2 linked regions of the Homo sapiens genome follow. The protein of the gene in region 2 interacts with the protein of the main gene of each other region in a biochemical or structural test. Each region holds a gene or a part of one and is shown on either strand. Other genes may lie near its edges.

Region 1 (15,250 bases), on a different chromosome or scaffold from region 2:
GTGGTGGCACGTGCCTGTGGTCCCAGCTACTTGGGAGGCTGAGTTGGGAGGATCTCTTCAACCCAGGAGGTCAAGGCTACAGTGAGCTATGAACACACCACTGCACTCCAGCTTGGTGACAGAGCAAGACATCATCTCAAATTTTTTAAATAAAAAATTCTATATTAAATTTTCTGAATAGGCATAATCACATTCACATAACTCAACTATAGAAATGCTTAAAAGGTATACAGAGAAAAGTATTAACACATCTTGTCCCTCATTAGCCTCTTTCCATCCTTAAAGAAAGGTAACCATTGTTAATTTCTTTATATACTCTGAGATTTTTTTAAATGCACATATAAGCATATATCTTTGCACTCTTTCCAAATCAATATATATATAAAACCTTACTTGGGCCAGGTGTGGTGGCTCATGCCTGTAATCCTAGCACTTTGGGAAGTGGAGGCAGGAGGATCGCTTGAGGCCAGTAGTTTGAGACCAGCCTAGCCAACGTAGTGAGATCCCATCTCTACAAAAAAATATTTAGCCAGGTGTGGTAGTGTGTGCCTGTGGTCCCAGCTGCTCAGGAGGCTGATAAGGGAGGATCTTTTCAGCCCAGGAGGTCAAGGTTGCAGTGAGCTATTGTCATACCATTGCACTCCAGCCTGAGCAAAAGAGTGACACTGTCTCAAAAAAAAAAAAAAAGTCATCCTTATTCCTGCATATAGTTTCTGTTATTCTGTTATATAGTTGTATCATTTTTTATCTAAATGGTTCCCTGTTGATGGACATTTAGCTTGCTTTAAATCTTTTATTAACACACAAGTGCTGCACTGAATAATCTTGTACTTACAGAGGATATGTAAATTGAGTTCCTGGAAGTAAGTTTGTGTAGTTTTGCTATGTGCTGCAGTAAGTTTGTGTAATTTTGCTACGTGCTGCGAAATCACTCTGCTTAGGTAAATTACTTTCCCTCCAACAACGTATGGGAATGCTGATTTCCCTATAGCCGTGCCAACCTGGTATATTTTTAAACTTTTGGATTTTGGCCAATCATCAGGTAGGCATCAGAGAAAGAATGATTTCTTAGTGTGGTTTTAATTTGCATTTCTCTTAAGAAAAAAATGTCTAATTTTCCTCATTTAAGGGTTTTCTCTACTCCCTTCTTTACTCTTTTCTTTCAGCTGTCCAAATTCTTTGCTCGTTTTCCTAATGGCTTGCTGGTCTTTTTCTTGTCAATTTATAAGAACTCTATATAGTAGAGATATTGTCCTTTTGTCTGTGATGTGAGTTGCAAATATTTTTATAACTTCTTCAGCGAAATGCTTTTCAATCTGTCTTCTCTCTTAATTATACACTTAAAGCTCTACATTTCACTCTGAGTACTATTTTGGTTGCATCCCTCAAATTTTAGTATGTGGTGTTTCCATTTTCATTATGGTTTCTACGTGCTTCTGAACTTATTTAGAATTATGCTTAATATATTTCTAAACAAATGTGTTTTGCTTTGTTGTTTTTATATGATTGCTATTGGTTTCTAATTTTATGCCATTGTGTCAGTGATTCTTTTGGTGATTGCTGAGACTTTCTTTTTGATGAATTTTTAAAAAATTGTATGTTTGCGCTTGAAAGCATGTCTTTTCTCCAATTAAGCAGTTCAAGATGCTCACCGTATTGTTCAGATTTTCTACAATTTTATGTTGAGTTGACTAGTGATCATTTAAAGAACTCTGTTAATATTCCCACTGTGATGGTGGATTTGGCAATTTTGTTAATTTTTTATTTATATGTTTTAAGGCTATGTTTAATTTTGAAATTAAATAATTTATAGGTTTTCTAATGTTGCACCAACTTTGCATTCCTGAAATGAACCAAATGTGGTCATATATATTATCCCTGACGATCCCTTTTTTTTTTTGTTATTACTTTTTTTTTGAGACAGAGTCTCACTATGTCACCCAGGCTGGAGTGCAGTGGCATGATCTCGGCTCACTGCAACCTCTGCCTCCCAGGTTCAAGAGATTCTCGTGCGTCAGCCTCCCAGGTAGCTGGAATTATAGGCGTGTGCCACCATGCCCAGCTAATTTTTGTATTTCTAGTAGAGATGGGGTTTCGCCATGTTGGCCAGGCTGGTCTCAAACTCCTGACCTCAAGTGATCCGCTCACCTTGGCCTCCTGAAGTGCTGGGATTACAGGCGTGAGCCACCCGCACCTGGCTGTGGGTAGATTTTTAACTACTGATTCATTTTCTGAAGTAGTTTTAGGAATATTCAAAGTTTTCTGTTTCTACTTGGGACAGTTTAAGTTTTCTTTTCAGGAGTTCATTTCATCTAACTTTTAAGATTTATTGGCATAAAGTTCATTGTATTCTTCTATCTTTTTAATCTCTGTGGCATCTGTAATTAGGTTCCTCTTTTCATTCCTCATGGGTTATTTTTGCATCACTAATTTGTTACTGGTCAGTCACATCAGAGGTTAGTCAGTTTTACTAGTTTTTTCAAAGAAACAATTTTTGGCTCTGTTGAGCTTCTCTGTTGTATTTGTTTTCTATTAATTTCTACTCTAATCTTTATTTTCCTTCCTTCTACTTTTCTGGGTTTATTTTACTGTTTGTTCAACTTCTTGAAATGAATGCCTAGCTCATTCATTTTCAGCTTTTCCTCTTTTATATCTCATAAATTTGTCTCCAACCATCTATATATCTCTGACAAGTTTTTAATGGCTATTTTAAATTCCTTATCTAATTATTAAATAGATAATACTTTCCCATGATACAAAACCCAGAAAGTATTATTTAAAAGGTATGTAATGAAATATTTCCCACCTGGTCATGGTGGCTCATGCCTGTAATCCCAGCACTTTGGGAGGCCGAGGCAGGCGGACCACCTGAGGTCAGGAGTTCAAGACCAGCTTGGCCCATATGGTGAAACCCTGTCTCTACTAAAAATACAAAAATTACAGGGTGTGGTGAGGCATGTCTGTAGTCCCAGCTACTCAGGAGGCTGAGGCAGGAGAATCGCTTGAACCCAGGAGGCAGAGGTTGCAGTGAGCCGAGATCACACCACTATGCTCCAGCCTGGGTGACTGAGCAAGACTCCGTCTCAAAAAAAAAAAAAAAAAAAAAAAGAGAAAAATATTTCCTCCCATACTTGTCTCTCATCTGCTCATTTCCCATTCTCTCCCCGCCATCCCTGCTCCAGCCCCACAGGTTAACCCTGGTCTTAGTTTTGCATGTATCCTTCCAGCCTTTTTGTGTGATTACAAACAATTATGAATGGAGATTCTTATTTCCTTTCCCCTTTATTTATAAACAATATATAGTAAATTAAACACACTGTTCTATACCTTGCTTTTATTTCCCTGGACAATAAACCTTAGAGAGATCTTTCAATGGCAGTATATCTTTTTTTTTTTTTTTTTTTTTTTTTTGAGACGGAGTCTTGCTCTGTTACCCAGGCTGGAGTGCAGTGGCGCGATCTCTGCTCACTGCAACCTCCACCTCCCGGGTTCAAGGGATTCACCTGCCTCAGCCTCCCGAGTAGCTGGGACTACAGGTGTGCGCCACCACACCCAGCTAATTTTTGTATTGTTAGTAGAGATGGAGTTTCACCATGTTGACCAGGATGGCCTTGATCTCTTGACCTCGTGATCTGCCCTCCTTGGCCTCCCAAAGTGCTGGGATTATAGGCATGAGCCACCATGCCTGGCCCTTTTTTGTTTTTATAGCTGCATAAAATTCCATTGTGTGTTCCATCATTTTGTCACCATTATTCTACTGGTTGAAATAGTTCCACCCCCAATTCTTTTGTTGTCACAAATGATTATTACATTGTACATATATGCATGTGTAAATATATCTTACATATAATTGGGCTGGGCACAGTGGCTAATGCCAATATTCCCAACACTTTGGGAGGCTGAGGAGAGAGGATCACTTGAGCCCAGGAGTTTGAGACCAGCCTGGGCAACAGAGCAAGACCCTGCATCTATTAAAAAAGAAGAAAAAGAAAGTAAGCAAAAAAAGCATAATTGCCAGGTGCAAGTTATGGATATTTAAAGATTGTCTTTTTTAAACTTTTTATTACAGAAACTTAAAAACATATATAAACTCCCTACAAAGGTGTATCTGTGGTTCCCTGTCTTTGGACACATAGGATGGTATTCCTGTTCTCTATTTCATTTATTTTTGTCCTAGTCTGTAGTCTTTCCCTCTGCTGGCTCTTGGTTTAGTGTGTTCTTCTTTTTCTAGTTTCTTAAGATAGAAGGGTAGATTATGGAGTCAAGATTTTGTTTTTAAAAAATTGATGTTTATAGCTATGAATTTCCCTCTAAGCACTACTTCAGCTGCATCCTGTAAGTTTGGATATGTTATGTCTTCATTTTCGTTCATTTTTGAGGTATTTTATAGTTTTCTTTTGATTTTTTTCCTTTAACTCACTGGTTACTTAATGAGTATATTGTTTAATTTCTACATATTTCTGAATTTCCAAATTTTTTTCCTCATTCATTTCTAATTTTATTCCATTATGGTCAGAGAACACACTTTGTGTGACTTAAATTCTTAATTCTTTGAATATATTTATTAATATAATGGCTACTTTTAACTCTTTGTGAGATCCAACATCTGGGCCCTCTCACAGGTGGTTTCTGTTGCCTGCATATTTTCCTATATATGTTTCATACTTTACTGTTTCTGCATGTTTCATAATTGTTGAAAATCAGACATTTTAGATAGTATGTTGTAGTAACTCCAGATAGAAATTCCTGCCCTCCACCCCATGGCTTTTGTTTGTTCATTTGTTCAGTGACTTGGCTGCACTACTTGCATTCAGTCTCCCCCTCACAACATGAAGCCTCTAGTGTCTCTTCTCAGAGTGCACGGTCTTGGCCCTGCACACAGCCACACTAGATGACAGTGGTTTCAGCAGGCTTTTTGACTGTTTCTTTCATGAATTTGTTAAGCCATCTGCCTCTGCTGGTATCACCCCCAGCTGTTAGGCTCCATTCATTGCCAACTAATTGCTTTATTGTTTTTGACATGTGGGGCATAAGTTGTTCCATAGTTTAGTCCAGTTAATTGTGGGCCCCTTTGTCGGGCTAGTTTTTGAGGGCAATATATAGGTTTGTTCTGAGTCCAGGACGGCTCTCAGTTGCCCTTTCCCTGGTTCTCTCTGTTAAACTAGCTGTCCCAAGGTTTAGCCTGTTGCTATCATGGAGCAATCAGCCTCCTTTTAATTGCCTCCTGCCAAAATCTCTACATTTTTGAAGTGCCTATAGGCTTGAATTTCCCCATACTCTGTTTCATATTAAGTCAGGTCCTTTGGAGAATGTTTTGGAGCCCTGTATTCTTACGGACTGCCTCTCCCCCTGGGCAAAATCCCCGAGGCCCTGCTCTGGAGTTGGGGTCAGGAATAATGGCTTGCTTCACTTGGAAGGACATTCCTGCTTTATGAGCAGGGAGCTAGGCAGGGATGACAACCTCTGCTCTCTCGGTTTGCATCTCCTTTTGTGAAACCTCCACTCTCTGAGCAAGCTTCCGTGAGGGCAATCAGGGCCCCGATACTTTTGTCCCACTGCACTTGAGGTAAAGCCTCTGCCCTGTGGGTGGGGCTGAGTGGAGGAAGGGAGCCCTTGATCTTTTTCAGGAATTTAGTTGCTGTATCTTGGAGCTGGTGGCCCTCCTGGTAAAATACCATATATCATATCTCATGACTGGATGTTGAGAGAATAGGAAGTCCCTCCCCCTCCACCGCCCCACCCCACTTTTTTTTTTTTTTTTTTTAACTACGCTTACCTGCTGGAGTGGAGCTTTAGTCTAACTGAGCTGTGGGGTAGGGGTTTGGGGCATAGATTGAGGGAGCATGTCATGGTTCAAGTGCTGCAAATTCTCACTATTCAAGATTTAGTAGCTGGGCATGGTGGCTCACACCTGTAATACCAGCACTTTGGGTGGGAGGATTGCTTGAGCCCTGGAAAGCCTGGACAACATAGCGGGACCCTGTCTCTACAAAAAAATTTGTAAAAATTAGTTGGATATGGTGGCACACACCTGTAGTCCTACCTTGGGAGGTTGAAGTGGGAAGATTGCTTGGACCTAGGAGGTTGAGGCTTCAGTGAGCTGTGATCATGCCACTGCACTCCAGCCTGGGTGACACAGTGAGACCCTGTCTGAAAAAAAAAAAAAGATTTAGTAGATTTTCTTGAGTAAACATTTCTTCATTTGTTATATGTCCTTAGGAAAATTTCCAAAGAGTTTAAATGCTTTATGTTTGTTTGTTTGTTTGTATTGAGACAGAGTTTCACTCTTGTTGCCCAGGCTGGAGTGCAATGGTGCGATCTCGGCTCACCGCAACCTTGGCCTCCCAGGTTCAAGCAATTCTCCTGCCTCAGCCTCCCGAGTAGCTGGGATTACAGGCATGTGCCACAAGGCTGGCTAATTTTGTATTTTTAGTAGAGATGGGGTTTCTCCATGTTGGTCAGGCTTGTCTCGAATTCCTGACCTCAGGTGATCCACCTGCCTCGGCCTCCCAAAGTGCTGGGATTACAGGTGTGAGCCACCGCGCCCAGCCATGCTTTGTGTTTTTAAATTTTCATCAGTAATGGAGTTTCCCTGTGGAGTGTGCGAAATCCCTCATGCTGCCATTTCAGAAGTAGGACCGCTCCCACTTTTTGTTTTTGAGACAAGGTCTTGCTTTCCACACGGGTTGGAATGCAGTGTGGCATGATCATAGCTCACTGTAACTTTGAACTCCTGGGCTTAAGGGATCTTCCTGCCTCAGTCTCCCAAGTTGCTAAGACTACAGGTGCACACCACCACACCTCGCTAATTTTTAAAAATTTTTTGTGGAGATGAGTCTCACTATGTTGCCAAGGCTGGTCTTGAATTTTTGGCATCAAGCCATCCTCCTGCCTTGGCCTCCCAAAGTGTTGGGATTACAGGTGTGAACCACCAGCCTCTCTTACTTTTAATAGTTATTTTAGAAATTAGAATATTGCATGCTTAATTTATCAAAGGCCAATCAATCTCTTTACCCTCTTTCTGAATGATATAAGAATCTTAGAATTGTTTGAAGTTTTTTACCATATGCACATATATAAAAATTACATATTTATATACAAATATATATACACTTTAAAAAAAATACAGGCCAGGCCTTGTGGCTCATGCCTGTAACCCCAGCACTTTGGGAGGCCAAGGTGGGTGGATCACCTGAGGTCAGGAGTTCAAGACCAGCTGGGCTAACATGGTGAAACCCTGTCTCTACAAAAATACAAAAATTAGCCAGGCATGATGGCAGGTGCCTGTAATCCCAGCTCCTCGGGAGGCTGAGGCCGGAGAATCGCTTGAACCCAGGAGGCGGAGGTTGCAGTGAGCTGAGATCATGCCATTGCACTCCAGCCTGGATGACAGAGTGAGACTCCATCTCAAAAATAATAATAATAATAATAATACATATATGAAGCAAATAAAAGTATATATATACACACACACAATATTTATACAAAACAAGAATATGAAACATAAATTGGTTACCTACAGTTAAGCTGCCTGAATTCAGTTCCTGTTTTTACCACTTAAAGGCTGGTCAACCTGAACAAGTGCCTTAACTGCACCACACCTGTTTCTTGAGGCACGAAGTTGAGAAACCAATATCGCCTCACTGGGTCTTTGTGATAAGTGAGCCAATTTATGTAAAGTGCCATATGCACAGTGTATGCACAATGCTTGACAGATAATCAGTGCTTAGTAAAAGACACCTGCTCTAATAACTAAAGCAAATTATTGTTGGTGATTAAGTGTATTCATCCTTTCTGTCCTGGCAGTTCCTCTGTGACGAGGGTGCAGGTATCTCTGGGGACTACATCGATCGCGTGGACGAGCCCTTGTCCTGCTCTTATGTGCTGACCATTCGCACTCCTCGGCTCTGCCCCCACCCTCTCCTCCGGCCCCCACCCAGTGCTGCACCGCAGGCCATCCTCTGTCACCCTTCCCTACAGCCTGAGGAGTACATGGCCTACGTTCAGAGGCAAGCCGGTGAGTAATTAGAGAAGGAGGAGAAGACGGGGAGATACGGGGGCAGGGGGTGGCAAAAGATCAAGTATTGAATAGCTGGAGGAATGTGTTCCTGGCCTGCTTGCATGCTGTTTCTCAGTAGACTCAAAGCAGTATGGAGATAAAATCATAGAGGAGCTGCAAGATCTAGGCCCCCAAGTGTGGAGTGAGACCAAGTCTGGGGTGGCACCCCAAAAGATGGCAGGTAGGACCTTGTTTCACCTGTTCCGTGAAACTCACTTCCATTTCTTCCCTTCCCCTGATCTTACTGTCCTGACTGACTGGTGGGGTGGGGGGGGGTGGAAAAGTACCATGGGCCCTCCTCCCTTGGTGATAGAGGAGGGGAAGGGACCCCATCCTATTTGCTCCCTTCTGTCTCACCCCTCCTGTCAGATCAGTCTCTCCCTGTTCTCTGTACCCTAGGTGCGAGCCCGACCAAGGATGACAGTAAGGACTCAGATTTCTGGAAGATGCTTAATGAGCCAGAGGACCAGGCCCCAGGAGGGGAGGAGGTGCCGGCTGAGGTGAGACCAGCTGCCTCAGAGGAGCAGGATGGGGATGGGGAGGGTCACTGCAGCTGGGGCCATTGTGAGGTGACCTACATCTACCTAGGGATGCAAGGATATCCCCAGAACCTTTGCCTTCATAGTATGGAGGGCATGAACAGGCTTTCATACTTGACTCTCTCCTTTTCTCCTCGTCAGGAGCAGGACCCAAGCCCTGAGGCAGCAGATTCAGCTTCTGGTGCTCCCAATGGTGAGTGAACCTTCCATGTCTCCTTTACTGAATATATTTTAGGATTGGCAGGGGTAGGGATGGAGGGGAGAGCTAAGCCTGGGAGGGAGGTTGGGTAGCCAGGCCGGCAGAAAATTCATTTTTATAGGAGTTAATACTCTTTGTAGACAGCACTGCTATTTTAGCAAGGTGGCAGAACACAGTGGCTCCACCACTTGGTGACTTTGTAATTCACTTAACCTCAATTTTCTTACCCATAAAATGAGGGTAATAACCCCTACCTTAGAGGGTTGCATGGGATTAAATGAGAATGCATCCATAATTCACAGTAGAAGGCCTGGAACTGAATAAACTAAATGGTTAATATTTGTGGAAAGAGGAGAAGGGTTCCAGGGAAGACAAGCCCTTAGCCCCAGGATCTCCTCTGTAGTCCTAAAAGCTAGAGTGACTGCCAGAAGGGCCTCAGAAGTGCATGGAAGAGTGGGGACTTAGCAGCTTGTTAGCATCCATCTCTCCTACCAGAGTGTCCACCTTAGGATGGTGCTCTCTGCAGGCGAATATTTGCCCTTGTCTCACTGTCAAACAGGTAAATCCTAGAGGCAGGGACCATGTCCTTCCTTGGTCTCTCATTACCTGTCCTTAGGAATCCAGAGAGAATTTAGGAGCGCAGTAGCGCACACCTGTAATCCTAGTTACTTGGAAGGCTGATGCAGGAAGATTGCTTGAGCCCAGGAGTTCAAGATCATCTTGGGCAACATAGTAACACACCATGTTGAAAAAGAAAAAGAGCCGGGCGTGGTGGCTCATGCCTGTAATCCCAGCACTTTGGGAGGCTGAGGCAGGTGGATCACCTGAGGTCAAGAGTTCAAGACAAACCTGGCCAACATGGTGAAACCCCATCTCTACTAAAAATACAAAAATTAGCTGGGTGTGGTGGCAGGCGCCTGTAATCCCAGCTACTTGGGAGGCTGAGGCAGGAGAATCTCTTGAACCCGGGAGGCAGAGGTTGCAGTGAGCAGAGATTGCACCACTGTGCTCCAGCTTGGGTGACAGTGCAAGACTCTGTCTCAAAAAAAAAAAAAAAAAAAAAAAAAAAGAATTTAAACACAACAGAACAGGTTCATGATTATTATTCTTTCATCTCAGATTTTCAGAACAACGTGCAGGTCAAAGTCATTCGAAGCCCTGCGGATTTGATTCGATTCATAGAGGAGCTGAAAGGTGGAACAAAAAAGGTATAGGCCGTGCTTAGGGAATGGGTAGAACCCACCTCCCAACTGCGAGCATTTGAAAAACTACCCTGACCTGGGACTCAACTCCTGGGTCCCCCAGTACCACACACCTGCTACTGTTTGTCTGCCCCCGACCATGTGTCTCTGTTGAAACCCCAACTGTCTTTCTCCCCACTCCCTACCCACCCAGGGGAAGCCAAATATAGGCCAAGAGCAGCCTGTGGATGATGCTGCAGAAGTCCCTCAGAGGGAACCAGAGAAGGAAAGGGGTGATCCAGAACGGCAGAGAGAGATGGAAGAAGAGGAGGATGAGGATGAGGATGAGGATGAAGATGAGGATGAACGGCAGTTACTGGGAGAATTTGAGAAGGAACTGGAAGGGATCCTGCTTCCGTCAGACCGAGACCGGCTCCGTTCGGAGGTGAAGGCTGGCATGGAGCGGGAACTGGAAAACATCATCCAGGAGGCAAGCCCAGCTCTTCCTCCTGTTGCTTCCACAGCCGCCTGGTCCCGTGGAGCAGGACAGGCTGACGGGCTAAAAGAAACAGAGGGCACAGCACAGGGCAAGGACGGGGCACTTGGAAGTGGTAGCTGTTTCCCTAATTAATCGGGGCTGTTGGGGAAGGGGGACCAGAGAGAGGGACAAGACTTAAATATCAGACTCTCTGGCCAGGCGCGGTGGCTCACGCCTGTAATCCCAGCACTTTGGGAGGCCGAGGTGAGCGGATCACCTGAGGTCAGGAGTTCAAGACCAGCCTGGCCAACATGGCGAAACCCTCTCTACTAAAAATGCAAACAAATTGGCCAGGCATGGCAGTGGGTACCTGTAATCCCAGCTCTTTGGAAGGCTGAGGCAAGAGAATCGCTCGAACCCGGGAGGCGGAGGTTGCAGTGAGCCGAGACGGCACCACTGTACTCCAGCCTGGGTGATAAGCAAAACTCCATTTCAAAATATCAGACTCTCCTACAGAGCCCAGCCCGCTGGCTGCCTCCACACCCCAGACCCTTGACTCACTCTCTTCTCTTGGGTATTCCAGACAGAGAAAGAGCTGGACCCAGATGGGCTGAAGAAGGAGTCAGAGCGGGATCGGGCAATGCTGGCTCTCACATCCACTCTCAACAAACTCATCAAAAGACTGGAGGAAAAACAGAGTCCAGAGCTGGTGAAGAAGCACAAGAAAAAGAGGGTTGTCCCCAAAAAGCCTCCCCCATCACCCCAACCTACAGGTGAGAGCAGTCAGACAAGAAAGAGTAGCCCAGTCTGTTGTTTTCATCCCTCAGCTGGTTCTGTTCCCAGAGGGGACCCTGTTCCTTCCCTTCTGAGGGTGCTCATTCTCTCCCCACTTTCTGGAACACTGTCCTCACTTGCGCCTGCTTCCCAACACCATCATCCCTTTGCGTGTTTACCTCCTATTCATCCCTCTGGGAAGCAGCTTTTAGAGCATATCTGCTGGTTTTCTGGTTTGCTCCTGTACACCCAGTGCCTAGCACTCTGCCTGGCACACAATGGATGATCAGTAGCTAGTAATTGAATGCTTGTGAGTCTATATGCTGAAAACCACTTTAGGACTTTGCACCAAGAGAGGCCCCAGCTGTCAGGGCATGAATAGGAGAGCCCAGCTGCACATGAGCCAATAGCTTGGATAGACTTTAAATTATTTCTTCTTCTTGTATCCCCTTGTGTCCATTTCATAGTGTCCTATGGGTGTGGACATCAGATATTCTAAATGGAATGTTCCAGTTTCAAACCTTCCATTCCCACTCTCTCTATAAACATTGAAATGTCTTTAAAGTCCCAACATATGGAGGAGGAGACCACACTTTTCCAACCTGCTTCTTCAAACAGAACTTTGTTGGTGCAGGTGGCCTGATTTTGGCTTTAGAAAACATTTGTTTTCCTATAGGTGACGGGCAGAATTATTGGGTAGGGCGGGAAGATGGAAGGCTGCAATTGGTGGAGGGAGCTCTACAGGCTGAACTGGGAGGGGCGGGGCACACATTTTTTTGAGCCCTGGCTCATATACATGTTGAGATGGAAGAGCTGCCAAAGCCAACTGATGTTTTAGGGGGAGATGACCCCCACACCCCTAACCCTGGAGTCACGCCTCTGCTTTGTGTTTCCCTGTGTGTCTCCCCCTCTAAGAGGAGGATCCTGAGCACAGAGTCCGGGTCCGGGTCACCAAGCTCCGTCTCGGAGGCCCTAATCAGGATCTGACTGTCCTCGAGATGAAACGGGAAAACCCACAGCTGAAACAAATCGAGGGGCTGGTGAAGGAGCTGCTGGAGAGGGAGGGACTCACAGCTGCAGGTGGGCCCTGGAGGGCGGCTGGACCCAGTGCTGTCGGAAGGGCAAGCTGCCGGAAGTGGAGGGGCTGGGACCAGTGGGGCAGGGGGCCTGCCCTGAGGCTCCCAACCATCCTCTCCTCTCACTGCATACTGCTCCTTTCCAGGGAAAATTGAGATCAAAATTGTCCGCCCATGGGCTGAAGGGACTGAAGAGGGTGCACGTTGGCTGACTGATGAGGACACGAGAAACCTCAAGGAGATCTTCTTCAATATCTTGGTAAGAGGCTTCTACCCCCGAGTCCTGGCCCCCAGCCCTCCTGGAGTGGAGGTGCGGGCTTGCCCCAGCCACGCCATTGCTGAGCTTCCATTTCCTGATCTGTAAGACAAGGCTGGGGTTCCAGTGGCTCAGAGTGCTGCCATGCAGGAAGAGCCCCTCAGGACATGGGTGTCCTCATTCCCTGCCTTCCCCCAGCTGCCTGGCCCAGGACTTCCCTGGGCTCAACGGCCAGTAGCTCCAGCCCACCTCTACCCTCTCCCACCAGGTGCCGGGAGCTGAAGAGGCCCAGAAGGAACGCCAGCGGCAGAAAGAGCTGGAGAGCAATTACCGCCGGGTGTGGGGCTCTCCAGGTGGGGAGGGCACAGGGGACCTGGACGAATTTGACTTCTGAGACCAACACTACACTTGACCCTTCACGGAATCCAGACTCTTCCTGGACTGGCTTGCCTCCTCCCCACCTCCCCACCCTGGAACCCCTGAGGGCCAAACAGCAGAGTGGAGCTGAGCTGTGGACCTCTCGGGCAACTCTGTGGGTGTGGGGGCCCTGGGTGAATGCTGCTGCCCCTGCTGGCAGCCACCTTGAGACCTCACCGGGCCTGTGATATTTGCTCTCCTGAACTCTCACTCAATCCTCTTCCTCTCCTCTGTGGCTTTTCCTGTTATTGTCCCCTAATGATAGGATATTCCCTGCTGCCTACCTGGAGATTCAGTAGGATCTTTTGAGTGGAGGTGGGTAGAGAGAGCAAGGAGGGCAGGACACTTAGCAGGCACTGAGCAAGCAGGCCCCCACCTGCCCTTAGTGATGTTTGGAGTCGTTTTACCCTCTTCTATTGAATTGCCTTGGGATTTCCTTCTCCCTTTCCCTGCCCACCCTGTCCCCTACAATTTGTGCTTCTGAGTTGAGGAGCCTTCACCTCTGTTGCTGAGGAAATGGTAGAATGCTGCCTATCACCTCCAGCACAATCCCAGTGAAAAAGGTGTGAAGCACCCACCATGTTCTTGAACAATCAGGTTTCTAAATAAACAACTGGACCATCAATCCATCAACCTTTTTTGTGGGGTGGGGGTTCCAGCAGGGAGAAGGCTCAGTGTTCTTTTCAGATCATGCTCTGATCCTGTTCTTTGCTCCCCATTCCCCAGGTACTATAAACGGGGGCTGGGGTATGCAGGAAGAGACCAGGGTAGCTAAACAAAGCCTGGCCTGGCAAGGATTGAAAGAAACACTTGCAATGCTGTCATCTTCCTTTTCTCATCTGTCTGTTTCTGTTCCTTCCCTTTTGCACCAAGTCTTTCCCTATTGTTTCCCCCTTTATACCCTGAAAGCCAAAATGCACACCATGGAGCTCCCCCCGGCGGGGATCTTCCTTCTGCTGTGGTCTCTCCCATATCATGCTCCAGATTCCATTTGTCATCCACACCCCTACCCACCTGTCCTTTCAACATTTTCCAAAAAGACCTCCACCTTTGGGCATGCGCAGAGAGAGGGCTGCTGCCCACACATGCCAGTTTCTTAGTATGCCCAAGGGTACATGGGCCTGGTGTCTCCCTTTCTTCTTCACTACCAAGTGCAGGCATGGGTCCCCCCACATGCCTCCTCCCAGTGCAGAGGACTCTGATTTTGTTTGTTTTGTTTCGAGACAAGAGTCTCACTCTGTTGCCCAGGCTGGAGTGCAGTGGCCTGATCTCAGCTCACTGCAACTTCTGCCTCCCAGGTTCAAGCAATTCTGCCTCAGCCTCCCAGTGACTGGAATTACAGGCACACACCACCATGCTCTGCTAATTTTGAGTGCAGAGGACTCAGGTAGAGTCCTCTGCTCTGGTCTCTGAGGTGAACGGCCTTTCTGCTGAAGGCTGCCCCCGGGCTCACAGGATAAGAAAAGGGATAGAGGGGCCGGGAGCAGTGGCTCACCCCTGTAATCCCAGTACTTTGGGAGGCTGAGGCGGGCGGATCACTTGAGGCCAGGAGTTCGAGACCAGCCTGGCCAACATCGTGAAACCCCATCTCTACTAAAAATACAAAAAATTAGCCGAGTGTGGTGGCGCACGCCCATAATCCCAGCTACACGGGAGGCTGAGCAGGAGAATCGCTTGAACCTGGGAGGCGGAGGTTGTGGTGAGCTGAGATCACACCACTGCACTCCAACCTGGGCGACAGAGTGAGACTGTCTCAAATAAAAAAAAAAAAAAAAAAAAAAGGATAGAGGGCCCAGAACTCCCATGTGTCTATAAATGGAGAGTGAAGGATTCAACTGTTGAAGGAAGCTCTTGCTGAACGTGGACTAGTGCTTACTGTGCATGCTATGCTTACGTTGTTTTGTTTTGAAGTGTAAATAGGTAGACTCAGAAAACCCTGCTTCCTCTGGTCCATCTGCGCCCCCTGAGGGAGGGATGCTCCAGCTGGACAAGAGCTTAGACACTGCCTTGAGGGCAGCAGTAGTCAGAATGCAGCTCCCAGACCGCACCCCTCATCTCCCACCAGCGGACCCTTGAACAAGTCACTTAACTTTCTAAATGCTGTTTCCTCATTGGTAAATTGTGGACAACAGTACTGGCTTTTTAAGATGGTTGCGAGGATTGAATGAGATAGAGTGTATGTCGTGCTTTTAGCACAGAACCTGGCCCCAAGTAAGTGCTCACTAGCTTTCTATTATAAGCCAACTCCTGAGTTCTGAAAAGACTGGGTTA
Region 2 (15,250 bases):
TTTTTATCTGGAAAATAGGGACTAGAAACAGTATAGCAAGCAAAGAAAGGCGAGTTTACCACAACAGGATTAAAACTCTCACACACTTTTTAAAAAGTCCCACTACAGTTTTAGAAATCGGATGGAAAGGTGGTAAAGCAGAGGTGAGGTACAGGGCAGAGGATCAGCTGAGGGCAGTTCACTGAGTGTTAGCAAGATATGACTAATACTGTACGTAACAAGCAATAATAAAAGTCCTCTGCCGAAGACAGAATAGTATAAAACCTTTCCTTCCCCTGCCCTTACAGATTTCTAGAGAAGATAATTTGGGAATAAAAGGTATAAAAGGTTTTTGAGAAAAGAGAGATCAAAGGACATTCAGAGTTCGGGAGGATATCTGGGAAGCAGACTTAGCTTAGATCCTAAAGGGTGTAGAAGATCTGCATTGCTGGGGAGGAGTGTGGGAGTGGTAAACCAGTCAAAGAATTCACAGATGTGCTGGGAGGAGGAGAAGGGGAGCAGAAGCAGGAAAACAGTCTGGCTGAAACACTGGTTGTATTTCAAAGAGCAGTAGCAAATCAGGGTGGATAAATGGTGTGGGCCTAAGCAGCTGGTGAGCATTAAATGTGTAAGAATCAAATTGTATCCTTAGCAAACCTCTGAAGATTTCTGAGTAAGATTTTTATGAGTGTTGGTAAATTTATATAGGATGCATATGGGTAGTACATGGAGAAAAATGAATTAAGGGGAAAAAAAGTGTGTAACAATCCAGATAGAAAGTGATTTTTAAAATTCTAATTAGAGCGGTGCAGTGGGAATTCAAATATAATACTTACTGAGTCCTCGACGCAAGATGCTGAGTACACCAATGTTGGAAATACAAGGGTTCTCGCCTCAAGTGGCTCACTATAGTAGAGGAAATGGGAATGGAAACCAGCCACAGTGAAGTATGCTATCACGGTGATGGGAAGTGCCAGAGGAACAGACAGGACAAAGTTGTAGCTCTGCTTAGAGAAATGAGGGCAAGAAGCAAGTTAGAGGACCTTCTCACCACTTTCCAAACGAAAGAAATGAGGAAATGCACAGCACTAGAAAATGAAGGTAGGTTCAGGGACCTGCAAACAGGTTCCTGTGGCTGGAACAGAAAGTATATGGTAGTGAAATGTTCTTTATAAAAAAGTAGCAATGGACAGAATGAACTAGAAAGATACAAAAAGAAAAAAAACAAACAAACAGGCTTTTGTAATAATCCAGGACAGCAATGAAGAGTGTAAATGGGAATGAGGAACAAGAGACTAATAGGAAATTAGTTTTAAATAAGCAAAATTTTCAAACTGATAAAGGAAAGTATGTTCTTCTAAAACATCATGCTGTTTCCAGACTTGGAGACTTTCAATAGACTTAACTCCAACTTAACCTTTAGAAGTCTTAGCCTAATTTCTTAAAAAAAAAAAAAAACAAAAAAAAACCTCTCCTGGCCTGCAGACCAAGTTAGGTCTCCTCTTGTGTGATCCCAATAGGATCCTGTACTTCCATCTCATAAACATAGCACTGGGAATTACAGGTTCAACATTGTATTTCCCTCACACAGTTAAGACTCCAGAAAGGCAGAGAGAATTACTTTGACCTGGGCACTGTGGTACCTTCAGTGCCTAACACAGATCAGACACTCAGTAAATAGCTGTTGAATAACTAAATGAAGTTCACAGGATCAATTTTAAATCTGTTCCTCCATCTCCCCCATCAGACAGGCTTACCAATCCTCATTCCTTCCAACAAGAGGAAACTTCAGTCTTAATCACATTGAGTTTGCAATACTTCCAGAAAATTCAGGTAGAAATGTCTGTCAGTCCTCTACAGATGCCAAAGTAAGAGACAGACGAAGGAATCTTTAACAAATCCTAATAGCTGAAGTCATGATTGTTGTTATTACTATTATTTGTTACAGTTACAGCTAATACTAATTGAGCACTGATTATCTGTTGAGTATTTCTTTATTTTCTCACCTGTCCTCAAATAGACCTATTGGATTAAGTACTGTTATTAACTCCTATCATACTGATGAGGAAATTAATGCTTTAGGTTAGAAAATGTGTCTAAAATCAGAGAGCAATTAAGTAGCAGAAGAGCTTCAACACAGGCAAACTAGTTTAAGAACTTGTGCTTCCATGAGCGCATAAGATAACCCAGGGGGAAAAAAAGTGTAGACTAGAGGGAAAAAAAGAGAAGACAAACCACAGATCATAAAGAATAGTAACATTTAAGGGGCAGACACTGCCAAGGAAGAACTGACGTAAGAACTGGTATTTATATTCTTGTATGATTCCTCACACATATGGAATGGAAAGTCACCTAATGACTTGCTTCTTGCAAAAGAATACAGCACAAGTGATGGGATGTCACTTCCATCATCAGATTACAAGACTGGGACTTCAGTCTTGCCAGCAGACACTATTGCCTTTTTGGCTTGCATACTTTATTGAAGAAAGCTGTCATGTTAGGGAAGCCCACGTGGCAAGAAACTGAAGCCCTCAGTCCAACAACCTGCCAAGAACTTAATGGTGCCAATAACCACTGAGTGAGGCTAGAAGCAGATCCCTCCCCATTCAAGCCTTAGAAGGAGACCACACACCCTGACCAATGTCCTGACTGCAGCCTGTGAGAAATAGTGAGGCAGAAGATGTAGCTAGACTGTGCCCAATTCCTTGTCTACAGAAAGTATGACATAACAAATGTGTGTTGTTTTAAGCTGCTAAACTTTGGAGTAATCTGTTATGTAGCAATAAATGACTACTACAAACTAAGAAGAAAAATCTAGAAATATAGATGTTCAAGTTCCTTCTACATACACATCTTCTGACAGTCATGAACAGAAAGTGAACTGAACTTTAGGAAAAAAAACTACCATTGTAAGTTGAGGAAAAAAAGAAAACTGAAAAATATAAGAAAAAACAACTGAAAGGATAAGACCCAGGCTAGTAAATGGGTAGCCAAAGATTTTAAAGGTGGGGTGGTTAATAGAGCTATTGCAGCAGTAAAAATATCTGGTCTAAGGGGTGGGGGGCGGGGAATCACTAAATTTTTTAGCTAAAAAGCAATTTTCAAGGCATCCATTTCAGAGTAGACCTAACAGAAATTGGTAGAAGACATCACACAGGTAAAATATGCCTTGAGATAGAATTAAAGGGTAATTATATAACAAAACTATAGAAGCCAAGCTCCTAGTCACCATTTATAGAGGAAAATTGGAAATATCAATATTAATAAGAAAAAATTCAGAGAGATGGTTAATATGGTTTGGCTCTGTCTCCTCACCCAAATCTCATATTGAATTATAATCCCCATTGTCAGGGGAGGGACCTGGTGGGAGGTGACTGGATCATGGTGACAGTTTCCCTCATGCTGTTCTCATGATAGTGAGTTCTCATGAGATCTTATGTTAAAAGTGTTTGACAATTCTCCCCGCCTCCTTCTGTCACGTAAGACATGCCTTGCTTCCCTTTTGCCTTCTGCCATAATTGTAAGTTTCCTGAGGCCTCCCCAGCCATGTGGAACTGTGAGTCAATTAAACTGCTTTTCTTTATAAATTACCCAGTCTCAGGTCTTCACAGCAGTGTGAAAACAGACAAACACAATGGTCAATCTTTTTATTCCCCAAACTTATGATTAGTCCTTTTCAATTTACTTCTTAGATTTGACATTTCCTATTAAGGTGTTATTACATAAAAATTAGCCTTAAACTGAATTGAGATGAGATTACAGCTTCCTGGGTTCTGGAGTTCATGTTTCATGTTTCTGGTTTTAATTTTTAAAAATTATTTCATACCTGACAATCTAATGTTTACCCATACTTTTGTGACCCTCTCTCACTTTAGAATCAAAAGCAAGGCTTCCTATGCTCAAAAGTCCTGGATAGTAGGCCGGGCACAGTGGCTCATGCCTGTAATCCCAGCACTTTGGGAGGCCTAGGTGGGCGGATCACGAGGTCAGGAGTTCAAGATCAGCCCGGCCAACATAATGAAACCCTGTCTCTACTAAACATACAAAAAAATTAGCCAGGTGTGGTGGTGGGCACCTGTAGTCCCAGCTACTCAGGAGGCTGAGGGAGGAGAATCACTTGAACCCAGAAGGCAGAGGTTGCAGGCAGAGGTTGCAGTGAACCAAGACCACGCCATTGCACTACAGCCTGGGTGACAGAGTGAGACTCCATCTCAAAAAAAAAAAAAAAAAAAAAAAAAAAAAAAAAAAAAAGGCCTGGATAGTATATTCTAATTTTAATAGTACCAGTATTATTTTATATTTGGTACTTTTATTTGCAATTCCAATGCCAGGCTCCACATCAAAGGGATGAAAGGCTCATACAACACTGATATCTTCACAGATCATCCAATACAGTCCCTAAGCTATCAGTAACTTTCTTCTTCTTCACTACTTTAGGAAGCTATCATATAGTCATGTGTATCATACAGTCATGTATTGATAAGTCAGTGGAACTATTTTTGATATTTTACGGTAATTCCATTCTTCCCAATTTTCTGTAACAGTTTTATTTTCAACAGTAGGTTTAAATGAAGATGTTTTATTTCTGACTTCATTTTGACATTGAATCTAAATCTATGCTTCCCTTATGTTGAACCATTCAATTTTCTCTAATGTTCCCCTAAAGTTCAAACTTCGTATATTTCTTTTTACGTGGATTCACAAGCCATCTTGAATGAGTGGTTCATGCAAGGAAGCACAGACATACTTATAGACAACACTAAAAGTGTTGCAAGGTTTCCTGCAATAATTCCTGAAGGCGGTTCCACTGGTAGAGCTGATACAAGCATACTGCACAGAGAAACCTTAAAACCTCTAGAGAAGAAAGGATGGGGCTAGAAGGTCAACAGTAGTAGTAGCTAGCACAGCCAATTTGAAGGAATGTGAAAATATAGAACATATAACTTTTTTCTTGTTGCTTGGCTGGGAAGTAAGTGTCAGCAAGCTATCATAAATGGCAACACTGAAAAAGTGGGGGCAAGAGAAGAAAAGCAGAAGACTTAGGTCAAAATAAAACAATAATTTCCTTCCAATCGCTCAAGCCAAAACCCTTTAAGTCATTCATGACTCTTCCATTCTTTCATACCCCACATCTAATGTATCAGCAAATCTCATTTGATTCTACTTTCAAAATATATCCAGAATATATCCTACACAAACTGATCTCATTTCCTATCCTACTACATCAATCACATATCCTTTACTCCTTCCACTAAAACCACAGTGGTTTCCTTGCTGTTTTCTGTTTCTTTTTTTGAGACAGAGTCTCACGCTGCTGCCCAGGTTGGAGTGCGGTGGCATCATCTTGGCTCACTGCAAGCTCCACCTCCTGGGTTCAAGTAATTCTCCTGCCTCAGCCTCCAGAGTAGCTGGGACTACAGGCGGATGTCATCACGCCTGGCTAATTTTTGTATTTTTAGTAGAGGTGAGGTTTCACCATGTTGGCCAGGCTGGTCTCGAACTCCTGACCTCAAGTGATCCGCCCACCTCGACCTCCCAAAGTGCCGTGCTTGCTGTTTTCTGAACACACCAAACACATTTCAAGTTAGGGCCTCTGTATTTGCTATTTAATACCATTCCTGAAAATGCTCCTCTTCCACATATCCACATAACTAATTTCCCACTTCATTCAAGTCACTATTTAAATGTCACCTTATTTTACCAATCTTATCTAAAAGAGTACTCCCTAGTCACTCTGTCCTTATCTTATTCTCCATCTTAATATTTACCACCTAACGTGCCATGTATTACTTGTACATCTGTTTATTGACTGTCCCTCCCCACCCCACACTTCCTCCAACTAGAAGATAAGGTCCATGAGAAGGGGGGCTTTTTGTTGTTATTCAGGACACCCTAGCTCCTAGAACAGGGCCTGTATGTGCAGGGTACTCAACATTTGTTGAATGAACAAATGAGTGAAAATAGTATCAAAACAGGACTCAGAAAATATAACAAAGGGTAAAGAGTACACGTATTTTGCTTTGGTAAAGAAATGGGACCTGGAACACTGAATAAGAAAAAAGAGAATTCCAAACTCATGAAAACTTTATGGGGATCTCAAGTCAACAGACACTGTCCAAGCTCTTCAGAAATGAAACTAATTCTGAATTGGTTATGGAAAAATGTGATTATGAAGTACAAAGGTGGCAGAAAAGTTGAGTTTTGACTACGAAATAAGGCATGAAATAAACTGTTGTAAGAGAAGATTTTGGTTAACCATCTATATCAATTTTTTTTTAGAAGAGATTTAGCTGAAATAAAAGGCAAAGACAAGCTCTGAAAATGGACTTAGTAAATTATCTGAATGCCATCATGTAGTCACAGACAATGTTCCAAGTGTGGAAACGAGGGCACAGTGGAAAAGAAGGTGGAATGTAAGCACAGAAGTAAAATCTAAGAAAAAGAAACTGCCCAAGAATGTGCTAGAATAAAAGGGAGACTGAAATAGTTGGGGTAGCTTTAAAGGCCTAAAGTGAAAAATTAAACAAAAACAACTAAGCTGACAACATCAATCCAAAGGCATATCAGAAAGGCACAGGCTTCAGAAAACATGGAAGAAGAACAAAGATTTCAAGCCTGATGGGAGAGAAAAGGGAAAGGAAAACAGGAGTAAACTGTCACTCAGAAACACAGAGTGGGAAGACAGCTCCTACTAAAGAAACAAGAGAGGGTAGGCCTACTTCAGGGCAAACGGCTTTAAATAGTATCAGAGGAAAGACAGATGGATAAAGAACATTTAAGAAAATTAGGTAGGAGAAAAATTTAAACTAGAATGTCAGATAAGCCAACATGTAGAATGACAGAAGCAAAAGGGAGAAGAAAGTCTCGAATGTTCAAGCATATTCTCAAAAATGGCAGAGGCCCAGTGCGATGGCTCATACCTGTAATCCCAGCACTTTTTTTTTTTTTTTTTTGAGACAGGCTCTCGCTGTCACCCAGGCTGGATGAAGTGCAGTGGTGCAATCACAGCTCACTGCAACCTCTACCTCCCAGGCTCAAGCGATCCTCCCACCTCAGCCCCTCAAGAAGCTGGGACTACAGACATGTGCCACCATGCCTGGTTAATTTTTGTATTGTTTTTAGAGATGGGTTTCACCACGTTGCCCCCTGGTCTGGAACTCCTGGGCTCAAGCAAATCCGCCCACCCTGGCCTCCCAAAGTGCTAGGATTACAGGCATGAGCCAGCACTTTGGGAGACCAAGGCAGGAGGATCATTTGAGGCCAACAGTTCTAGACCAGCCTAGACAACATAACGAGATCCCGTCTCTACAAAAAAATTTAAGAAATTATCCAGGTGTGGTGACACATGCCTGTAGTCCCAGCTACTACGGAGACTCAAGTGGGAGGATTGTTTGAGCCCAGGAGCTGGAGGCTGCAGTAAGCCATAATTGCACCACTGCACTCCAGCCTGGGCATGTTAGGCCCTGTCCTTTAAAAAAAAAAAAAAAAAAGCGTAAAATATGCCAAAATTAGTTAAGTAGAAATATGTATAAAGTTACAGATATGAATGAACTAAATCAAAGGTCTGTTGATTTTGTCACCAGCTCTATGACCTTGAAGAAGTTAATCTCTCTGGGACTTTTTTCTCTTAAAAAAATGTTATTTCTTCTCTTTTAAAAAAAAATGTGTAAATGCAGGAAAAGTGGTTAGGTAAAAAAATGGGTGATCATTCTAAGCCCTTTTTTCTCCAGTTTATCGGAGGGGAATGAGACAGGGAAAGCACAGAATTCTTAAAAGAATCAGAAAGATAGCAAATTTTTTAAATGGGAGAAGTAATAGTTAAGAACAGTTCTGCATAGCGCTTTACCATCTAAAAGGTGCTTTACATGAAACATTATATGTTCACCTCACAACAAGCCTGAGAAGCTAAAAACACAGGTATCACTGAACACCATTTTATAAACGGAGCAACTGACGACTCAAGAAATTAAGAAACTGGACTAAGGATACAGAAACCATAGCAGACCCAGGATCCAACCCAGATCTAATGGCAGAACCAAATCCATTATCTTTCTTTTTTTTTTTTTTGAGACGGAGTCTCGCTCTGTCGCCCGGGCTGGAGTGCAGTGGCACAATCCCGGCTCACTGCAATCTCTGCCTGCCGGGTTCAAGCGATTCTCCTACCTCAGCCTCCCAAGTAGCTGGGACTAAAAGGCATGCAACACTACACCCAGCTTATTTTTGTATTTTTAGTAAAGACAGGGTTTCACCATGTTGGTTGGCCAGGATGGTCTCAATCCCTCGACCTTGTGATCCACCCGCCTCAGCCTCCCAAAGTGCTGGGGTAACAGGCGTGAGCCACCGCACCTGGCCCCTTTCTTTCTTAATAATTTTTTTTTTAATAGAGATGAGGTATTGCCATGTTGCCCAGGCTGGTCTTGAATTCCTGGACTCAAGCTATCGTCCCACCTCAGCCTCCCAGAGTGTTGGGAATTACAGGGGTGAGTTACCACATCTGGCCCGGAATCCATTATCTTTCAAAGTTAAAATGATCTCTATTATCATCTCCTCCTCCTCCACGTAATTAAGGATTTGTGGGTATTTTTGTGGATTATTAGGTAGTAGATAAGTAAAGAGTTACATACATACAAAAAAAAAATTTTTTTTTTTTTTTTGAGATAGGGTTTTGTTCTATCACCTGGGCTCAAGCAATCATCCCACCTGAGACCATGGGCTCGCACCACCATGCCTGGCTAATTTTTTAATTTTTTTAGAGACAAAGTCTCACCATTTGCCCAAGCCAGTCTTGAACTCCTGGGCTCAAGCGATCCTCCTGCCTCAGCCCCTCAAAATGCTGGGATTATAGGCGTGAGCCACTAAAGCCCAGCCTAAAATAATCTTTTAACGTAAAATAAAATTCCTTTCGAACTAAAGGAGTTAGTTTACATGTAAACTACACATCAACTCACTACACAAAATGTTTTCACATATAGTTGATCACAATCTATTAAGACTACCCTCTCAGTCCACACGTCCCTTATAGCTGACAGAATTACTGCAGTTGTACTATTTTCAGCCTTTCTACATACAGAGTAACTCACTTTTAACTTAAATTCTGACATAGTTATAAAATCATTAAACAAGTAACTTCAATTTGTGTATCCTGGATCCCAAGCATACAAAGAGAATGGAAAAAGGAGATAAAGGTGTACTTATGTATTTAGGTTTAAATAACATAAGTTTATTTTCTCACAGTTCTACAAGCTGAAAGTCTGAGATCAGGATGCCAGCATGGTCTGGTACTGATGAGGGCTCTCTTCCTGGGTCAGTTTCGTTTTTAACATCTAAGAGGATTGTTCACCACATCTCTGTTAGTGATAATAAAACAGCTGCATTTTCCTCATCCTATTCTTTGCTCTAAAAGCCATAATCAGCCAGACCTAACTAATTAACTACAGTAATAGTGAAAAATCTTAGTAATATAATCTGCTGCTTATTAGTCCCAACCTATTTTATTACTCCTTTTCTTTATGTATGTTTTAACGGAACAGATGAAGTTTTGGATTAAATTCCAAAAATGTTATGTATATGATTCTAGTATTTCTATTTTAATGGGAAAATGTTTTCCTTCATAGTGGCGAAGAAACTCCAACAGAAAAGTTCAACATTTTCCCATGATCCTCACTCCTCTGCATTCCTCTTCCTCCTGTACCCCCAAGTCAAGGCACACTACTCTTCACAAAACAGCAGACCATGGTTTCTTTCTACTGCATATCATTGAGACTCTTCTTGATGAAAACAAGCATAAGCAAGGACATAGGATCAAAGGGCAGGGTAACGGCAAAAAGGAGAAAATCCCAAAAAGACCAGAGAAAGTGGAAACAGGAGCTTGGTTGTATCAGTGGCTACAATTACATTTCTGTTTTTCTCCTGTATGACTTCATTTTTCCCTTATGGTTCCTTTTTTAAAGTAGTTGCATAAACAGCGGCCAGATAAGCATGTTTGAAGTAGAAATTCAGGGGAAAACAAAGCCTACACTGAATGGGCCACAGACTATCATGTATCATCTGATTACCATGCCCTGACATAAAGAGCATGCAATATACATGATGTAAATAAAAAAGAACATCAGATTCTTAGTCAGAAAACCTGAATTTAAGTCCTAATATGCTGCAGAATTTCCAACAAGTGAACTAACTTTTCCTGAGTCCCACTTTTCTAATCTATAAAAAAAGGGATACAACCACCTGCCTACTGCTGTGAAAGTTGAAATGAGAAAAATACTACACATTTGCTGCATATAACTTTTAAAATCACTATAATGTTATGAAGGATAAAATTCTGAATTGAAGTCTCCCTCTGCAATCACATAAAAAAACCATATTCTGACATCTGTTAACAGTATACTGACAGGCGCATAATTCAGGTGGATAAATACAAAAGTGGCTTTTAAGCCACTATCTGAAATAAACATTGTACAGTCACCTAATAAAAAGTTTTACACAGCCCAACCATAGAGTATGATTACTCACATATAAAGCTAGTGCTATTCACCCACTTTCAACAAAATATATGTATCAAATTGCAGTTCCAGCAGTGTGCTAAATAATCTACATCTCATTTAATGTTCTACCTATAACTAGCGTAGTTAAAAAAGAGCATGGGTTTGATATCTGAATGACTTAAGTTTGAACACCAGCCAGGGTTATAGTAAGTGGTAGACCTCTGCCAAGTCTGAGCTGAAAATCCCTCAAATGTAAATTAGGAATAACACTACTCACTTCACAGAATTAAGATTATTGTGGCCAGGTGAGGTGGTTCAAGTCTGTAACCACAGTACTTTGGGAGGACAAGGCAGGAGGATCCCCTGAGCCGAGGAGTTCGAGATCAAATGATCAGCAAGACCCTGACTCTACAAAAAAAATTTTTTTTCATTTGGCCAAGTATGGTGGTGTGTGCCTACAGTCCCAGCTACTCGGAAGCTGAGATGGCAGGATAGCTTGAGTCCAGGAGGTGGAAGCTGCAGTGGGCCATGCTTACACCCTTGTACTCCAGCCAGGGCAACAAAGCAAGACCCTGTCTCCAAAAAAAAAAAAAAAAATACTCTGATTGTATCTGTATTGATCCTAATATGATGCCTAACACACTGTGGTTGGTTGCTCAATATACGGTGGGTGGTTATTTTGATTGCCTTCTCATTTCCACAAAGCAAACACCCTTGTTTTTTAGGAATAAATTACATGTTCAAACACGATTACCAAAACCTCTTTCAGCCAAGAAGTACAATGAAAGGAATTCCTGAATATCATTTATAGATCCTGAAGTTGCGTCCCTAAAATTAATATAAGCAGATCAAATCCAAAGAGTTTAAAGGTCATCCCTCCTTCATCCTGTCCCTTATTACCTGCTAATATGTACAGTTACGTGACTTAAAACCCCAACAACTAGAACTCTTGAGGAAGGAGGTACCTATTTCCTAATAGCATCTCTATGAGAAGCATTTGCTCTAAGAGCCAGGCTGTCTGCTGTCCCTTCTCTAAGGACAGGTGAAAGCAGGAAGACAAAAGAGAAAAGAGGTCTCAGCTTAACTTGGAAAGCTAAATTAACTAAGGAAAGCAGATCAAGAAAGATTTGGGACATCATCTTCTTCAAGAATCCAATTTAAGCTTATGTCCCAACTATATACTTTGGTCAGTCTTCACAGCCCTATTGTCTCAAACTAATTTCTTTCCTGCTCTGGAGCTCAGGACTTTATGTTCAGATGTGACAATTTCTTAAAGTTGTGCCCTGACAACTTTCTTAAAAATTTTATCAATGAAAATCTAGTGAAAGACCAACGCTGAAATTTCATCAGATCCCCCTTTTCCTTCCAGTTTAATATTATTCAACTGTTCCTTTTTAAGACTACAAGAAATTAAGACTTGTGCCTTCATCCAGCAATGAAGTGGCAATAGGTAAATTAGACTCCACATTGTATTTTTCCCCACAAAATGTTCACGTTTATAACTTTCTCACTGCCTATGTTCAGTCTTTCGGGCAGCCTGAGAATCACATGTAATGACTGTCAAAGTAGATGATCTGACACACACATACAGAAAAACCACTAGTTAGAGTCAGCGTGTGTGTACAAACATGCAACTGTGATGCTCTCCCAGGTCAATCTCTCAAAACCCACAAAATCAGAGACTGATGGTGGAGGAGGGTGGCCTGGGAGCAGCCACAAAGAAAAGATCAAGATCTGAGAAGTAAAATGAAAAAGAGCTGCAAGAGAGTTGGTTAAGGACGAAAGAGTCTACTGTTTATCATGAGGGAGGAAAGAGGGAATAGACTAGGTAAGAAGTGAAGAAATCTGTGGAGGAAAAACCGCAATAGTAAAGAGAAAACAAAAAGATCTCACCAAATTGGGAGGATAAAACGAGCCCTCCTGCGCCAATTCCGTGTTGTTGTTTTGTTTTGTTTTGTTTTCCAGGAAGTTACAAAACAGTTTTCAACAGAAGGATTACATTAACAAAGCAAATAAAGGAAACTGGTGCTAAAAATGTAGCCTACCTACACTGAGAGGCCTGAAGACGGAAATACTTCTTTCCCCTTTTTGTAACGGGTTTCAAAACAGTAGGAACAGGGTGAGGGATAAGAGCTATAACAGGGGGAGGGGAGTAGCCAAGCTCTTCCTGAATACAGAGTCTTTCGACTAAATGCTTATTTTAAATGTACCTTTTTGCGGTCAGCCGGCAAATTCCTAACTGAACACAGCGTTTGACTCTCAATCGAAATGTGATGAGTGGTTCAGACACCATAGGAAATTTAACAGCTTATGCAAACACAAGGCAGATGCAGAACCAGGACTTGCTTTGGGTGGTACTCTAACACCCCTTCACTGGGTGGCTAAAACGCCACTAAGGTTTGAATTGTGACCAATAGTGGAATGGAAAAAAGAAAATAGGAAAGTTAAAGCGCCTACGTTGAGTCAAAAAACCATGCAATTAGCCGGAGAAGTTTGTGAACGGGCAGTAAGTGGAAAACAGTGGATACAAAGGGGCTAACTAGATAAACAGCTACTACAAATTCTGTCCGTCTTCCTTACGGGGAGCTACACAAGAAAGAGCGAGTCCCTTCTATATAGAGGAATGCTGCTTCTCAGCCTAGGCAGTTTCAGTCGCAGGCAGGGGCTGCCCGCCGAGAAGGGCCTGTCCAGCACAAACCCGCAGCACACACTTACTTTCGTCCGGCCATTGATTTTGTAGCTGCCCAGCTTCCCGTTACAGTGGCGTATCAGGTCGTCCATGCTGCTCATGAGCAGCCCAATGGTTTCGCAGCCGGGCTCCTTGCCCTCGATCCAGGTGATCTTATCGCCTCGGATGTCCTTGGACGAGTCACTCTTCTGGCTGACCAGCTGCCCGTCCGTGAACTTCCCGGTGTCGTGCAGGGCGCGCACCTCGTCGCCGATCTGCTGTCCGGTCTCCTTGCCGAGGAAGTCGTCCACCACACAGATGCCGTGCTTGTTCATGCACGGCACGATGTACTCGAGCGCCAGCTTCAGCGCCGGCAGGGGCTTCGTCTGCCCGTTGGGCCGCAGGCCGCCGCCGGGGCTCAGCGCATCCCCGGGCGTGTTGCTTGGGGGGTACAGGTTCGCCTTCTCCTGGAACAGCGATGAGCGGGCCGGCGGCTCCTCCTTGCCGGGCTCGGCTTCGGCAGCCACCGCCGAGCCCTGGCCGCCGGCGGCCGCACGACACGGCGACGCGGCCGCCGCTGGGTCGGCCGGGGGCTTGGCCTTTACTTTTCCCTTGGCCGCGTCCCCGGAGGCGTTGTCCCGGCGCGCCGCTGCCTTCCTGGGCTCCCGGGCCCCGGCCCTGGGCGGCGGCACTGCAGCCGGCGGCGCGGGGCCGGAATGCTGGTGTGGGCCCACTCCGTGGCCGAGGGCGCCCTCGCTGCCCTGGCACACGAGCTTGTGCTTCTTCCAGTCCTGACGCTGGTGCTCCTTGCAGCAGTAGAAGGAGCTGCGGCAGCGGCTGCAGCGCAGCAGGTTCTCCATCTTCCCGCACAGCTCGCAGTACTGCCGGTCTCGCTCGCTCGGGCTCGGCCCGCCGGGCCCGCCGCTGTCATTGGCCATGGCGGCGGCGGCGGCGGCGACGGCGACTGCGGCGGCCGAGCAGGAGGGGTAGCGGCCGGACGGCCTCGCCCGAGGCTGGGGAGCGGGGAGAGAGATAGGGGCCGTTACTGCGCCATGCACCCGCTACCCTCGCCTCAGGGAGGCCGGCACCCCACGCCCTCGGCCCGGCCGCTTCCGAGTCCTAAGCTCCGGCGCAGCGCCGGCAGCCGCCTCAGCGCCTCATCGCCGCCGAGGGCTGAGAGAATAGGGCCTGTGCGGCGAATGGCAACCTGGGCTCAGGCGCGCGGGCCTGGGGAGCGCAAGACCGGCCCCCTCGGCCGCCGCCGCCGCCTCAGCGTCCCGGGCGGCCCGGCCCAGGCTGTGGAGGAGCGCAGGGCATACGGGCGCCACTCGCTCTGCGCGCTCTGCACGTACACCACGGCCCCGCGGCGACCCGGGCGGGCGGCGCGCGAGGGCGGAGGGGGCGGAGGGAGGGCCGGGAGGGCCGGGGGGAGGGCCGAGGGGCGGGGGCTGCCTGCGCTCCTCCGCACTCGGCGGGGCCGGGCCTCGGCTTCTGCCTCGGAGGTGGGTCGCCCGCTTTCCCTCCGCCCGGGACCGGACTGGGACGCCGAGAGGCCGGTGCGCTACCTCAGCCCGCAGCGGCCTCCTCGGGGACGCCGAGGCGCAGGCCCGCGAGCGGCGGAAAGGCGTGGGGCAGCGCGGCAGCGCCTACACCTGCTGGAGGAGGGCGCCAGCCGCAAGCGGGTAGCGGAGCGAAGGCGGCGTAATCATGGCTGCTCTTCCTCCAGGCCGGCGCGGGGTGTGCGAGGCTCGCTCCAGTCAAGGTTGCAAGGTGGCTATTGCGATCCTCATTTTGCAGAGGAGGAAACGGAAATTCAGAGAAGTAAAGTAACTTGCCCAAGGTCACGCAAAACTGGGACTGAATCCAGGAATCAGGCTCCCAGATTCCAAGGCTGTTTTTTCCATTACACCATACAGCCTCTATTTCAAGAAGCCCTGAAATGGTTAAGAACAAAATAAGTATTACTATGGTGTTAATCCAATCTCTTGCGCCCCGTTTCGACCTAGTTTAAAGGTAATGAAATTTGAGGGTTTTAAAAAAAATCAAAAACTCATTTTTAAAACCTTTGAAATCCCGCCGAGTTCAAAACCCCATGAAGAAATTTTGGGCTACCAAGTTA

Evidence for each region.
Region 1: the proteins of EGLN1 (region 2) and OS9 form a complex in vitro, tested with the Homo sapiens proteins (one study listed by BioGRID).

Annotation. Positions count from the first base shown.
Region 1 is NC_000012.12:57,707,954-57,723,203, forward strand, and holds the end of OS9 (protein OS-9 isoform 1 precursor), read left to right. Parts: intron 1-7,806; coding exon 7,807-8,017; intron 8,018-8,135; coding exon of another isoform or gene 8,136-8,138; coding exon 8,139-8,240; intron 8,241-8,458; coding exon 8,459-8,559; intron 8,560-8,739; coding exon 8,740-8,791; intron 8,792-9,916; coding exon 9,917-10,005; intron 10,006-10,192; coding exon 10,193-10,468; intron 10,469-11,039; coding exon 11,040-11,229; intron 11,230-12,145; coding exon 12,146-12,310; intron 12,311-12,452; coding exon 12,453-12,565; intron 12,566-12,830; coding exon 12,831-12,956; 3' UTR 12,957-13,604; downstream 13,605-15,250. UniProt on the Homo sapiens protein: Lectin component of the HRD1 complex, which functions in endoplasmic reticulum (ER) quality control and ER-associated degradation (ERAD).
Region 2 is NC_000001.11:231,407,820-231,423,069, forward strand, and holds the start of EGLN1 (egl nine homolog 1), read right to left. Parts: upstream 14,469-15,250; 5' UTR 14,070-14,468; coding exon 13,179-14,069; intron 1-13,178. UniProt on the Homo sapiens protein: Cellular oxygen sensor that catalyzes, under normoxic conditions, the post-translational formation of 4-hydroxyproline in hypoxia-inducible factor (HIF) alpha proteins.